2 linked regions of the Homo sapiens genome follow. The protein of the gene in region 1 purifies or fractionates together with the protein of each later gene. This does not show direct contact. Each region holds a gene or a part of one and is shown on either strand. Other genes may lie near its edges.

Region 1 (7,497 bases):
AGGATATGATTTAAAATAAACAGACATTTACGCATCTGTATTTTTAAAAAAATAGTTCCTATGGGAAACTTAAATTTAAAAGTATGCCAAGATAAAGGCTTCAGTTTTAAATGGCCTGGTTGTTTTTTTACTGTTTTATTATTGTTTAATACCTCCTGATTCATACTTGCACCAGTAAATCTTATAGGTCAACCACTTGTGCATATCGCAATTCTAGATACTCAGAATATTAAACAAACTTGAGCTACTAAAGGCTAACATACACATTAGCTGGTGAATTGGGAGGGTTCTACATAAAATCAAATCTAAAGTTTACTAATATTGTTGACCAGAGTCTAAAATAGCAAACAAGTTGAGAGAGGCTTAGGTAACTATCAGGACTCAAAGTTGACTAAATATCATATACACAACTATTTCCTGGAATTGACAGAAAAACATCTATTTCAACTTGAAATGTGACTCAATCATCTACTTCTGTGGGTTAACTTACAACTAAATCTACAATTTTTAGCAATTACAGTGGCATTTGATATGACATTTATAATAGTGCTATAAATCATTTTCTCATATTCATTGACACAGACATGTCTTAGAACTATTCTGATACAATGCTTAGAATACTGAAAGAGCAGTTTTCAAGAATATAAAGTAGTACCCACAGTTTTAACAAATGTACTGAATTGAAGTTTAAGCAAGTTAAGACAGAAAATAGAACTACCATTATCTACAATACCCAGGTTACATTTTCAAATTATCACCAAGCTAGAGAATCAAAAAGATAAGTATTGTCAAAATATCTTGCAGGGAATTACCAAGTGAAACTAAGCCAATGCTAAAACATTAAGTAATGGTGGCTTTTCCCTTCACATATTAAAAAATATTCCTTAAAAGGATGTCATCTTTCTGTAGTAAAATTCAACAGAAACAATATGCTTGTGAGCACATGATACAAAGCATACACCTGCAGTCAACGTTTAAGTTAAAGGGTTCATACAGACTGAAATGGGTCAATATTATTGTGAAGAAATTACTGGTACTGCCAATACTATGTTAATTTTTAAAAACCGTCCAAAAGTCTTTCACTTACGTGTAATATTATTGTCAATTATACTCTACACAAGCCAGTGTTACTAGTGTTTGGCCACATCTACAACCAGTTTCTTAAATTAAAAAAAAAAAAATCAGATCGGTAACAATTTCACACAAGTTTTCTACATTCCACAAAAGGGTATTTTGTTCAAGTTTCAGGAGTCTTTCAGCCACCAGAAGTGTTAGTAGCGCTTTCTGGAATGGAGTACCAGAAAGCAGGCTGGCTACAACTGTTAATTGTCCAGTTGAAGTAAAGAGAAACATCTCCATAATTACCGAAAATGCTTGTAAGATTTAATTCTCCAATATGACCACACCAAGTTTGCTGACATCCATGTTCACCACAACATGTTTATGCATACACTCTTCCCTGATTATGGTTGTAATCGAGAGACTAATAAGGCCTGTATCTGAACAGAACCATGTTCAAATTAAATGACTGTAAAGTGTTTGAGGATGCGGGCGGGTAATTAAAGACGGTTAAACACGATTATAATCTAATGTAAACAAGACACAAGACCCCCACCCCAGTGAAACACGCCACCATACAGGCTTGCTGCAGTTACACTAGTATCACGTTAACCCGAATCATGAAGTCTTACCTTCAAAACAATTTCATTAAATAACTAGGAATGTGTACAGCACTTGACATCATATAACGTACTATGATACGCAGCAGGAGATATCCACTGCCACATTCTGGGCCCTCACTCCCTGCCCCGCACAGTCTCGATCACTGCTGGGTTCACCCTCTTTTTATTCTATCCACTTACCAAGAAGCACAGCTGTGGCCAGTTGTGGATAAAATATCTATAGGTATAAATGGAGTAGGGTTCGGACAGATCTTTGGTGATCAGTCTCATGATATCGGGCATTTGTAGCTCGGATTCATATCGGACATATCGTATCGTCCGATCCTCCCCAGGCTCAACCTCCCTGCCCGAAGGGCTTCTTAAGCTGCAGTCGGCGGTCAGGGACGAAGACAGCAGCCGCACCTGCTCGTCTTCCTCCTCCTCCTCCTGCTCGGTGCCCTCGGCCAGTCCATTGCGGGCCGCCGCGGGATCGCTCGCCGCCGCTGCCTCCACCGGGCTGGGGACCGCAGTTCTTGCATTACTAGAGAGGGAGTGAGGGGGCCTCTCGCCCGAGTGTACCCCGGCTCCTTTTGTTGCAGTCGCTCTGGGGCCTCCGTCAGGGGTGGCTGTGGTCGCGGCCACCTCTGCTACGCTCAGGACCTTGCTCTTGAGGGAGGCGGCCGCCCGGAGGTGCCGCAGTTCGGGGCTAATCAATCCGTTGAGCTGCTGCTGCTCCTGCGGCGGCTGAGGGCAGCGGAGGCACGGATGCCCCTTGGCCGCCACCGTCGCCGACTCTCCGCCCGCCGGGCTCCTGCTGCCGCCGCCTTCGTGCTCTTCGTCGTCCTCCTCGTCCTCGCTGCAGCAGGCGAGGGCGGCCCCCGCCGGGAAGGGACAGCGGGGCTCGACCGCCGCCGGGGCCGGAGGTGCTGGTGGTGGGAGGAGGCTGCTAGGCCCAGGCGGTACCTCCGCCATCCTAGAAGCGACACAGACCGAGAGGGGAGGCCATGAAACCCGGCCGAGGAGCGCGGAGAACAGGGGGCGACGGATGGGGGGCGGCCGAGGTGGGGGGAACAAAGGCAGAAACCGTCCCTCACGGAGCTGCCCCCCAATTCCCCGCCACCCCCCCGCTCTTCAGCGCCGCCCAGCTGCTCAGCCGGCCACCGTCCCCGTCCGCCCGGGCCCACCCGCCAGCCCTGTCACTCGCGGCCCCTCCTCACGGCTCACCCCGCACGGGTCCCCGCCGCCGCTGCCGCCACTCCTCTTCCTCCGCCACCGCCGCCGCCTCCTTCGCAGCCGCGGCAGCCTCCACAGCCGCCAAGGTTCTCACTCAGCCGCCGTCGCCGTAAAGCGCCTCAGCTGTTAGGCCGGGTAAAGTTTCCTGGGCCTGGCTTTACGACACTTCCCTGCCTGCCGGCTGCCCGGGCCAAGAGAGAGGGGCGTGGAGGGAGGTGACCTGTGGAGGGGCGGGGACAAAGGTGTCTCCTGCGGGCTGCGGGGAAGGCCGCGTGCTAGTGGGTGGGGCTGTGGGGCCGGGAAGTTGCAGAGGGCTTTGGAGTCACAGGCTCCCAAACCCTCTTCCTCGGTTTGGGGGCGCCTCAACCTGCGGTGCTTGCCACGCGGGGCCGGGGAGGGATGGACCGGGCAGGCGCTCCCTGCTTAAAGTCTACCGCGCACTCCGAGCTGTAGCGAATCTCGCCAATTCGGGGCCTGTGGAACAAGCCGTTTACAAGTCACCTAAAAATGCCCTTTTAAAGCTGCACAGCGTTTAATGTTTGCCCTGACCAGGGGCAAGGAGGATGGGGGAGGAGCGATTAAAAATGGAGCAAATCAGAGAAGCCGACCGAAAAAGAAAGGAAGATTTGAGCTGTGAAAATATGGGGATGGCTGTCGAAACGTGGTGGTTTGCAGTGTGAATTAAGTTCAGCTGGCCCTTGCCACTTTGAGGCAAGGGAGTCAGCCCTCTTCCTCTCCCTCCTTACTCTGCTCCTCGCACCCAGTAAAATTGGAGGCAAAAGTGACTGACAGGTGTTGGGCAATTGCTAGCACACCTGGGGAAGGGTTAGAGAGAGGTGGTGAAAGAGAGTGACCAGGGCTAAGAAGCACACTCCTAAACTTGTGACACAAATAGGTTAGGAAGCACTGGTAAACAGGTGGCCTGATCCTCCCAGGGGATCTGCCTATCGAGTGCAAAGGGGATAGAACTTGAGCTTGTGGCTGGGCGCCTTCTGCTCTAGTCCACAATTGACTCCCGGCAGGTCTGAGCTGAGACAGGTAGTGTAACTCACCCGCTCACTGAACAAATTCGGTTTTGTTAAAAACCTGATTTATAGAGCTGGTCTGGTGTGCCGCAGATGGACGTTTTCAATATATAATTCTATGACGGAACACGTTTGCAACTTTTTGCCGTAATCTAAACTCTATGTATAAAGTATTTATTATGCTCGCAGATTCTGTGCCTCTGAAATCCAGACAGAGCACAACTGGGATGGCTTTTCTCTACTCCATTATGCGTAGAGCTTCAGTTGGAAGACTCTAAGGCTGAGGAGTAGAATTATTTGAAAACTTCACTTTCACCGCTGATGGTTGATGCAGGATAAAGGCTGGAGGCCTCAGTTCTAGTCCATGTAGACCTCTCCCGGTGGTCTTTTAGCATTGATTGGTTTGGGCTTTGTCACAGCCTGGTGGCTGGGTTCCACGGCAAGTATCGTGCGAGAAAGTCAATCAGAAGCATATTACCCATTATAACCTAGCCTTAGAAGTCATGTAGTCTCTAGCCAGGTGCGGTGCCTCACGCCTGTAATCCTGGCATTTTGGGAGGCCCAGGCGGGAGGATCTCTTGAGGCCAGGAGTTCGAGACCAGCCTGGCCAACACAGTGAAACCTCATCTCTGCCGAAAAATACAAAAATTAGCCGGGCGTGGTAGCTCATGCCTGTAGTCCCAGCTACTCAGGAGGCTGAGGAGAATCACTTGAACCCGGGAGGCGGAGGTTGCAGTAAGCCGAGATTGCGCCACTGCACTCCAGCCTGGGCAACACAGGGAGACTCCCTCTCATCAAAAAGAAACAAAAAACAAGTTATGTAGTGTCAGTTCTGCTGCATTGTATCTAGGCAGACACAAAATTATATCCAGTTTTGACAGGAGGGGAAATAGACTCTACTCTTGGTGGAGAGAGGCAAGGTTCTCAAAGAGCATATGGGACCAGAAATATTGCTGTGGCCATTTTCAGAATGTATAACTTGCTACAGATACATTGAAAACCTCCTAAACACCTTGATGTGTGGGGGATATAAATGAGATGTATAAGTACAGCGTGATCCCTTTTCTGTCTTTTAAAAAGCACAAAACAAAACCATGTTTCCAAATGTGCATACATTGTTTAAAGATACATGTTTTTCAAAGTTTCTAAGTGTAACCTGGGTAGTCAGCCAATGAAACAATGATCTGTTCAAATCATGGTGGAAAAACTGGCCCAAGAGGCACCAGATAATTCCATAAGAGATGTTTAAGGGTGAATTTTACTTAGAAAAATACCTCTCAGTAATTTACTTTTAAATGTAAGCCCTTCCTAAAAAGCATGTACCTTCACTGTAGTGAATGAATGGCAGCAGGCCTTCCTGTTCTTTCTGTGTTGCAACTTGGCATTGAGCTCTGTCACACTGAGGAGCTGACCAGATGTTGTCTCAAAGTGGTTTTCAGAAAGTCAAGAGTTGTAAGGACCTTCTTGAGGCCAGGGAGTAAATGTTAGTCACTTTGTATTCACATATCAAACACATAAAAGGGAAATTGTTAAGCTTTTTGACTGAAGTACACCAGTCTCTCATTCAGTAACCTAGAATGCTTATAATGACAAAGTAAATTCTGACCTCCTCAATAACTAGTGGGGTAATTCTAATGTCTCAGCCCCAGTGATTTTTCTTTATATCCCAGTATTAAAATTACAATGTTGGCCTTCTAAATCAGATGACATCTCTAAAAAAAATTGCCTTTATAACTTATGAAATCTTTTCTATTTGATTCATGTTTACTTGATAGGATGATAGCACTATTTTAGGCATAGAAATAGGATTAGTTCACTCTAATGCTTTAGACATATTTACTATTATGAGACTCTGAAAAAACAACTACCTCCATGAGCAATACTTCATAGGAAAGAATGGGCTCAGAGCAAGGTGAGTGTAGCAGTGATACTCTTCTGTGTGGTTAGTTGATATTTTCATTGTTTTGTAATATCCTATGAAGCAACAGCCATTTTTTCTTTTCTTTTTTTTTCTTTTTTTTTTTTTTTTACTATTGTTGTTCTCTTTTGAGGAAGAAGAGAACATGCCTTAATTTTTTAGAAGAAAAAAAAGCTTCTCATTAAATCAATTAAAATAACCAATAGCAATTTTAAAACAACATCCTGAAGCAATTTATTGAAATCAGCTTGGAAGGAGAAAAATTTCTATTTAATTCTTTCTAACAGTGAGGCATTTTTCTCTTATTGGCTAGGTTTAGAGAGAAAACCTAGCTGTGTACCTACCTGAAAGGTAACTGTGGGAATGAATAATGGAAAGATGCTTTAAGTTCCCTTGACACAGCAGGATGACATTGTTATGTGCCATAGGCACACATACTAAATAATTTAAATATTTGTGTAGTTTTATTTTACATGTCATGTGGTTCTTAATCCCACTAATCCTATCTATTATACATAAAGCCCTGAAAATGAATGTCCTTAACTTTGTTTCATCTTGAATGAAAGAAAGAACATACATCAAATTTGAGAGCTGAAGAACTTAACCAAAGGATGAATATTAGTATATTGTTGTATTACCTGTAATCTTAGAACACTCTGAGATGCCCAGGTAAAAGACTAACAATTTGATTCTTCCCTTCGAATTTGGGGAATGACAGTCTGTTCTTTAAACTTCTTTCCCCTTGCCAGTAGTGGATGGCAGTACCAATTGTAGGTAGGCATCAATTTTGTTTGTAGAACTGAGGCCTCAGAGGACTATGAAGAACCAGAGAGGGTTGTGGTCAAATGGTCCCCATTTCCATTATTTTCAACCTCACACTAACTCTTCATGACCTGCCTGAAGACATGGTCAGGGTGATTCTCACAGATACACCTGGGCTGGTGAGACATGTTGGAGAGAATCATATATTCCTACATATTAGAGCCAAAAAATTTTTGGTCTCTAATTTAGCTATGCCTTCAGCTGTCTAGAATTGTTTTAACCTGTCTCCAAGGCCAGCTTCATCCAACAGCAACTGTCCTCAACCACTACTTGCTTCACACTCTCAGCAGATAACCCTGCCTCCATTTCACTAAGAAAAGTGAACTATTTCATAGGTGTGCCTTCTACTGCCATACCTATAAGTTCATCTGTATCTGAACTTACCCTTACCTCCTCCCTCCCAGTCTTAAGAGGGTGGAAGATGGATCAATTCTTCATGACTAATACCTCCCTCTACCTGTGGGCTTGATGCTTTCTCTTTCAGGCTCCTTTAGAACCTGTCCCATCATTGTTTCTCTCTCCTGAATTTTCCATGTTACCTTTGCTAGCTACTGCCTCAAAGTTTATAAACATGCCCCATTTAGAGATTTCTCCCACTACCATCCTTTTCCTGCCTCCTTTTCACCACAAACTCCTAATCTGCAATAGGTATCCACTGTCTCTACTCAGGTGCAGGTTCACTCTTCATTGGTGGGTTGGCTTCAATCTCAGCCCTTCTTCAAACAACACTCTGGCAAAAAATCACCTGTTATGTCCTAACTAGACTCTTCCAGTTCTCACATCACTTTATTCCATCGTGGCATTTCATCCTGCTGTGTCCTTCCAGAAACTCTTCCCT
Region 2 (7,023 bases), on another chromosome or scaffold:
GCCCAGGCTGGAGAGGCAACTCAGGTCTGAGAGTGCTGTGGGGGTTCTGAGTGTTATAAGAACTAGCAGGAAATATTATATACAGTGATTTCTTTAAGAAAGACACTATAAGAGATTTATATAAGAAATTATAAGAATAAATAAATATAAGGAAATCATAAGGAATTTATGTAAGAGATTATGGGTAATTTATACTTTTTTTTTTTTTTTTTTAATTGAGACTGAGTCTCACTCTGCCACCCAGGCTGGAGTGCAGTGGCAGGATCTCTGCTCACTGCAAGCTCCGCCTCCCAGGTTGACGCCATTCTCCTGCCTCAGCCTCCCCAGTAGCTGGGACTACAGGCACCCGCCACCACGCCCGGCTAATTTTTTGTATTTTTAGTAGAGACGGGGTTTCACCGTGTTAGCCAGGATGGTCTCGATCTCCTGACCTCGTGATCCGCCTGCCTCGGCCTCCCAAAGTGCTGGGATTACAGGCGTGAGCCACCACGCCCGGCCTAATTTATACTTTTCATATTTTCCAACATAAGCGAGGATTAAGTTTTTTAAAAAATCACAAAATTGAAGAAAGTCCATTTCATAAAGAAGAAGGGGCCAGGCTGGGTGTGGTGGCTGACGTCTGTAATCCCAACACTTTGGGAGGCCGAGGCGGGCAGATCACCTGAGGTCAGGAGTTCAAGACTAGCCTGGTCAACATGGTGAAACCCCGTCTCTACTAATAATACAAAAATTAGCCAGGTGTGGTGGCAGGTGCCTGTAATCCCAGCTACTCGGCAGGACAACAGCTTGAACCCGGGAGGCAGAGGTTGCAGTGAGCTGAGATTGTGCCACTGCGCTCCAACACGGGTGACAGAGCAAGACTCTGTCTCAAAAAAAAAAAAAAAAAAAAAAGTAAAACAATAAATAAATAAATAAAAGAAGGGGCCAGGCACAGTGGCTCATGCTTGTAGTCCCAGCACTTTGGGAGGTCGAGGTGGAAAGATTGCTTTAGCTCGAGTTTGAGACCAGCCTGGGCAACAAGGAAAGACCCCGCCCCTATAAAAAAATTAAAAAATTAGCCAAGCGAGGTGGCGTGTGACTGTAGTCTCAGCTACTTGAGAGGCTGAGATGGGAGGATCGCTTGAGCCTGGGAGGTTGAGGCTGCAGTGAGCTGTGATAGAAGAAGAGGGCATGGCAATGGCAGTGAGGGAAAGGGGCAGTAGGTTCTCTGGGGACTTACTCACAGGAGACAGGAGGCTGAACTATTCATACCTGTGGTTATGGATCATGCGGATGTCATAGAGCCTCACGAAGGGCCCGCTGGCCCCAACTGCCAGGCAGTTGTTGTCCTGGGGGTTGACAGTGAGGCACTTGGCCTCCACCAGCTGGCCACAGTACTCTGTCAGGTCAATCAGCACCTCCGAGTGTTTGCTGTTCTCTCGAAGGTCATACTGGCTGTGAGAGAGGACAGAGTTAGGGAATTGGGGCTTGGGGTCCTTGAGAGGAAGGCAGGGGAAAAGATAAGTTCTTGTTATGCAAGAGGATTGGGAGGGACTTTGGACCTGTTTCTAAATAAGAATGTCAAAAACAACTCCCATTTCTTGAGTGTCCACAGTGTGCCAGGTACCTGTAGTAGGCTTCTCACACATTCTATTCTACTAGAACTCCTAAGGTGGATACTATTGTACATATTCTACAGATGTTAGTATTATTGCTACTATTATACTACTACTGATTACCAACACTTAGTGAAAATGTGCTTTATGTCCAGTATTGCCCCTTAATTAATTCCTAACGCCATCCCTAGGTATCATTAGAATACTGAAGTTCAAAGATGTTGAATAACCTGACTGAGATGACACTGCTAGTAAGTGCAGAGCTGGGGAAGCTTTCTGAGACTGCATCTTAAACACTGCTCCGTTCCTACCTAATCTAGTTTCTTTCATGAAACAAGGTATGGAGGTGACAGAAAAGAGACTCTGCAGATCATCTAAGAGCTATCTAGATATACCATGGGCCAAGGCAAGCCTAAAAGTCTCATCCACGCAGTAAAGGTAATGCCAAAAAGTCTACCAAACAGCAGCAAACTCCCACCGCTCCAGACGGGGAAACTTTGTGCTGCCAATACACAGGTATCCTCAGAGAGTGGTGGGTAGGGGGGACATCACCTATATGCTCTCCCCTCTTGCCTAGACATCTGTTATCACCTCTTTGCTGTTCACCTTGTCTTTCTAAGCCATCTTCACCAGGCTGCTCTTCCTAAAATATTATTTTACATCACTCTCCTGCTCAAAAAAATTGCAGAGATTCCTCAATACTTTTAGCACAAGTTTACTTTTACCAAACTCCTCAGTCTGGTTTTCAAGACTCAATTTCACATTTCTCTCCAACCTTATTCCTCAGTTTTCTAAATGTGGGTCAATTATAACTACAGAATTCTTTATCCTGCACATGCCATGTTTATTTCTGCCTTTGCAAACTCTGCTCAAGCTGGGGAATACACTCTGCTTTTCCTTGCTCATCCAAATCCTGTCTGTTCTGGAAGGCCCAGCTTATGTTCACCTTCTGCTAGGACACCTTCTCTGACTGTGCCTATGCCTAAACACTTAGGATCCTACCCAATGCGCTAGACGCTCCGCTTCTACCAGCTGGCCCTGGCAAAATCTGGTCAGCCAAGGTCAAAAAGTGCTACACAGAGTTGGACCTGCCACTGACAAAGTGCATTCTGTCTTCTGAGGTTCAGGGATGCAGTGACTTACCCCAGTCAAATACTGAGTGCGATTGCTAGGATTTGACCCCAGGTCTGTCTGACTTCACTGCCTTGCTCTTGACTATGTTATAATTTATATATGACTTAGATATTCCTCATCTGTAAAAGGAAAGAGGGCACAAAGTCCTACAGGAACTCAAGGGAGACAGATTAAAGCAGGCTGGGGAGATAAGAAAGAAGTTCTAAGGTCACAGCTGAAGAAAGGAGTTAAAGAAGGGCAACGACACCATTTTAGAATGAAGGGAAGTAGAGGCAAATGTGTAACAATGCAGGGCACTGGAAAAGGGGACAGTCCATTTTACCATTTCCGGGTGGCTTGCCCCCTCCCAGGTATATAGCCACTGACCAACTGTTCAAGAGAAATGTATCAAGCGGCTCTATGTGCCAGGCGCTGTGCTGGGCTCTAGGGATACAACCAAGAACAAGACAGACATGGAGTTGCTCTAAGAGAGTTTACTTTTACTATTTAGTGAGGATACAGACAAAAAAGTAAACCAATAAGTAAAAATAAAATAAGGCCAGGTGTGGTAGCTCACACCAGCAATCATAGCACTGTGGGAGGCCGAGGTGGGAGGATCACTTGAGCCCAGGAGTTTGAGACCTGCCTGGGCAACACAGAGAAACCCCATCTCTACAAAAAAAATAGAAAAATTAGCCAAGCATGGTGGAGCGTGTCTGTAGTCCCAGGTATTCAGGAGGCTGAGGTGGGAGAATCGCCTGAGCCCAGGAAGTCAAGGCTGCAGTGAGCCATGATCACGCCACTGCACTCCAACCTCGGCAATAGAATGGAGTGAGACCCTGTCTCAGAAAATAAATTAATTAGCTCCCTCTCCCTCTCCCCCTCCCCCTCCCCACGGTCTCCCTCTCCCTCTCCCCACGGTCTCCCTCTCCCTCTCTTTCCACGGTCTCCCTCTCCCTCTCTTTCCACGGTCTCTCTCTGATGCCGAGCCGAAGCTGGACTGTACTGCTGCCATCTCGGCTCACTGCAATCTCCCTGCCTGATTCTCCTGCCTCAGCCTGCCGAGTGCCTGCGATTGCAGGCGCGTGCCGCCACGCCTGACTGGTTTTCGTATTTTTTTGGTGGAGACGGGGTTTCGCTGTGTTGGCCGGGCCGGTCTCCAGCTCCTAACCGCGAGTGATCCGCCAGCCTCGGCCTCCCGAGGTGCCGGGATTGCAGACGGAGTCTCGTTCACTCAGTGCTCAATGGTGCCCAGGCTGGAGTGCAGTGGCGTGATCTCGGCTTGCTACAACCTCCACCTCCCAGCCGCCTGCCTTGGCCTCCCAAAGTGCCGAGATTGCAGCCTCTGCCTGGCCGCCATCCCGTCTGGGAAGTGAGGAGCGTCTCTGCCTGGCCGCCCATCGTCTGGGATGTGAGGAGCCCCTCTGCCTGGCTGCCCAGTCTGGAAAGTGAGGAGCGTCTCTGCCCGGCCGCCATCCCATCTAGGAAGTGAGGAGCGTCTCTGCCCGGCCGCCCATCGTCTGAGATGTGAGGAGCGCCTCTGCCCGGCCGCGACCCCGTCTGGGAGGTGAAGAGCGTCTCTGCCCAGCCGCCCCGTCTGAGAAGTGAGGAGACCCTCTGCCTGGCAACCACCCCGTCTGAGAACTGAGGAGCCCCTCTGCCCGGCAGCCGCCCCGTCTGAGAAGTGAGGAGCCTCTCCGCCCGGCAACCACCCCGTCTGGGAAGTGAGGAGCCCCTCTGCCCGGCCAGCCGCCCCGTCCGGGAGGTGAGGGGCGCCTCTGCCCGGCCGCCCCTACTGGGAAGTGAGGAGCCCCTCTGCCCAGCCAGCCGCCCCGTCCAGGAGGGAGGTGGGGGGGTCAGCCCCCTGCCCGGCCAGCCGCCCCGTCCGGGAGGGAGGTGGGGGGGTCAGCCCCCCGCCCAGCCAGCCGCCCCGTCCGGGAGGGAGGTGGGGGGGGGGTCAGCCCCCCGCCCGGCCAGCCGCCCCGTCCGGGAGGTGAGGGGTGCCTCTGCCCGGCCACCCCTACTGGGAAGTGAGGAGCCCCTCTGCCTGGCCACCACCCCGTCTGGGAGGTGTACCCAACAGCTCATTGAGAACGGGCCAGGATGACAATGGCGGTTTTGTGGAATAGAAAGGGGGGAAAGGTGGGGAAAAGATTGAGAAATCGGATGGTTGCCGTGTCTGTGTAGAAAGAAGTAGACATGGGAGACTTTTCATTTTGTTCTGTACTAAGAAAAATTCTTCTGCCTTGGGATCCTGTTGATCTGTGACCTTACCCCCAACCCTGTGCTCTCTGAAACATGTGCTGTGTCCACTCAGGGTTAAATGGATTAAGGGCGGTGCAAGATGTGCTTTGTTAAACAGATGCTTGAAGGCAGCATGCTCATTAAGAGTCATCACCACTCCCTAATCTCAAGTACCCAGGGACACAAACACTGCAGAGGGCCGCAGGGTCCTCTGCCTAGGAAAACCAGAGACCTTTGTTCACTTGTTAATCTGCTGACCTTCCCTCCACTATTGTCATATGACCCTGCCAAATCCCCCTCTGCGAGAAACACCCAAGAATGATCAATAAAAAAAAAAATAAATAAATAAAAATTAATTAATTAATAAAAATAACTACAGGTGGCAATTAGAGTTACAGAGGATATAATTGTTAAAACAAGCATAACGTCTGTCTACTTTAGACAGGATGGTCAGAGAAGGTGCTTCTGAAGAGGTAACTGAAGCTGATCTCCTTAGGATAAGAAAGAGTCCGACATGGGAAGAGCTGGGGACAGAGAATCTCAAGTAGAGGAAAGAGTAACGTGAATGCCCAGAGGCAGTAGAGACCCTGGACACCTGAGGTGGTGAGAAAAAGCTTGTGGGCCTAGAGGTAGTACAAAGGAGGGCAAAGAGGGAGGAAGGTGAGGGCGGAGTAAGCAAATGTTCCCAGTGGAGTTTGTACACAGACAACTGCCCTGGGCAGACAAAGGAGGTTGGACCTCTGCTGGAGGGAAAGAGCTAGGTCTGTAGAAGGAAACACTATAGGATGATGGGATGGGGGAGCGACAGGCTCCACTAGATGCCCCAGACTCTTACCGGATAAGCCCATCCTCAGCAGCACTCCAGAATGTGTTGGGCCACATGGGCGCTGTGGCGATGCGCTTCACCCGGTTTGTGTGGTCTCCAAACATGTGGATGGTCTCCTTTACTGTCAGGTCGTGCACATGCACCTTAGAGTCGGCTGCCCCCGTGATCAAGATGCGGTCCCCAGCGTGAGGCAGGAACTATATAGGAGAAATGGAGGAAGGGGTGGGTGGTAAGAGTAGAAATGGCCACGGAAGGAGGCTAGCCTGGATGTCTGCACCCTTTTCTCTCTCCATGTCAGATAAGAGAATGAGCCCATGCAGGCTGGGCGCGGTGGCTCATGCCTGTAATCCCAGCTGCTCAGCAGGCTGAGGCAGGAAAATCCCTTGAACCCAGGAGGCAGAGGCTGCAGGAAGCCAGAGGCTGCAGTGAGCCGAGATTGTGCCACTGCACTCCAGCCTGGGCAACAGAGCGAGACTGTCTCAAAAACAACAACAACAACAAAAAACAAAACAAACCCTTGAGGTTCAGCAGTAATATACAGCAAGATTGTGTTCAAGCCCAAGTCTGTCTGACTCCCACATGCCCTACTTGCCTCATTATGACTACTTAGTAACCTAGAGATTAAGTAATAAATTAGTCCTGAAGTGAAAAAGACTTTGAGTGTTTAAGGGAATGGGTGTGTGTGGGTTTTTTTTGTTTTTTTTTTTTGAGACAGCGTCTCGCTCTGTCACCCAGGCTGGAGTGCAGTGGTGCAATCTCGGCTCACTGCAACTTCCACCTCCCGGGTTCAAGCGATTCTCCTGTGTCAGCCTCCTGAGTAGCTGGGATTACAGGTGTGCACCACCACGCCCAGCTAATTTTTGTATTTTTAGTAGAGACAGGGTTTCACCATGTTGGCCAGGCTGGTCTCGAACTCCTGACCTCAGGTGATCCACCTGCCTTGGCCTCCCAAAGTGCTGGGATTGTAGGCATGAGCCAGAATGCCCTGTTGGGAGTGAGTGTTTTAAATTAGTTTGACTGCTTCTGAAAAACAATCTGGTAATAGTAACAAAGATTAAAAACAATTTCTAGTTTTTGACTCAAAACTTCCACTTCCAAGAAATAATCCAGGCCAGGCGTGGTGGCTCATGCCTATAATCCCAGCACTTTGGGAGGCTGAGGCGGGCAGATCACAAGGTCAGGAGATCCAGACCATCCTGGCTAACACGGTGAAACCCCGTCTCTACTAAAAATATAAAAAAATTA

The links. Proteins that work in one complex are often made in the same cells at the same time.
Region 2: the proteins of NAA30 (region 1) and WDTC1 purify together in Homo sapiens (co-immunoprecipitation; 2 studies listed by BioGRID and IntAct, with this or other methods). This does not show direct contact.

What each region holds. Positions count from the first base shown.
Region 1 is NC_000014.9:57,386,094-57,393,590, reverse strand, and holds the start of NAA30 (N-alpha-acetyltransferase 30), read right to left. Parts: upstream 3,006-7,497; 5' UTR 2,886-3,005; intron 2,635-2,885; 5' UTR 2,634-2,634; coding exon 1,863-2,633; intron 1-1,862. UniProt on the Homo sapiens protein: Catalytic subunit of the N-terminal acetyltransferase C (NatC) complex. Catalyzes acetylation of the N-terminal methionine residues of peptides beginning with Met-Leu-Ala and Met-Leu-Gly.
Region 2 is NC_000001.11:27,286,626-27,293,648, reverse strand, and holds part of WDTC1 (WD and tetratricopeptide repeats protein 1), read right to left. Parts: intron 5,976-7,023; coding exon 5,788-5,975; intron 1,435-5,787; coding exon 1,252-1,434; intron 1-1,251. UniProt on the Homo sapiens protein: May function as a substrate receptor for CUL4-DDB1 E3 ubiquitin-protein ligase complex.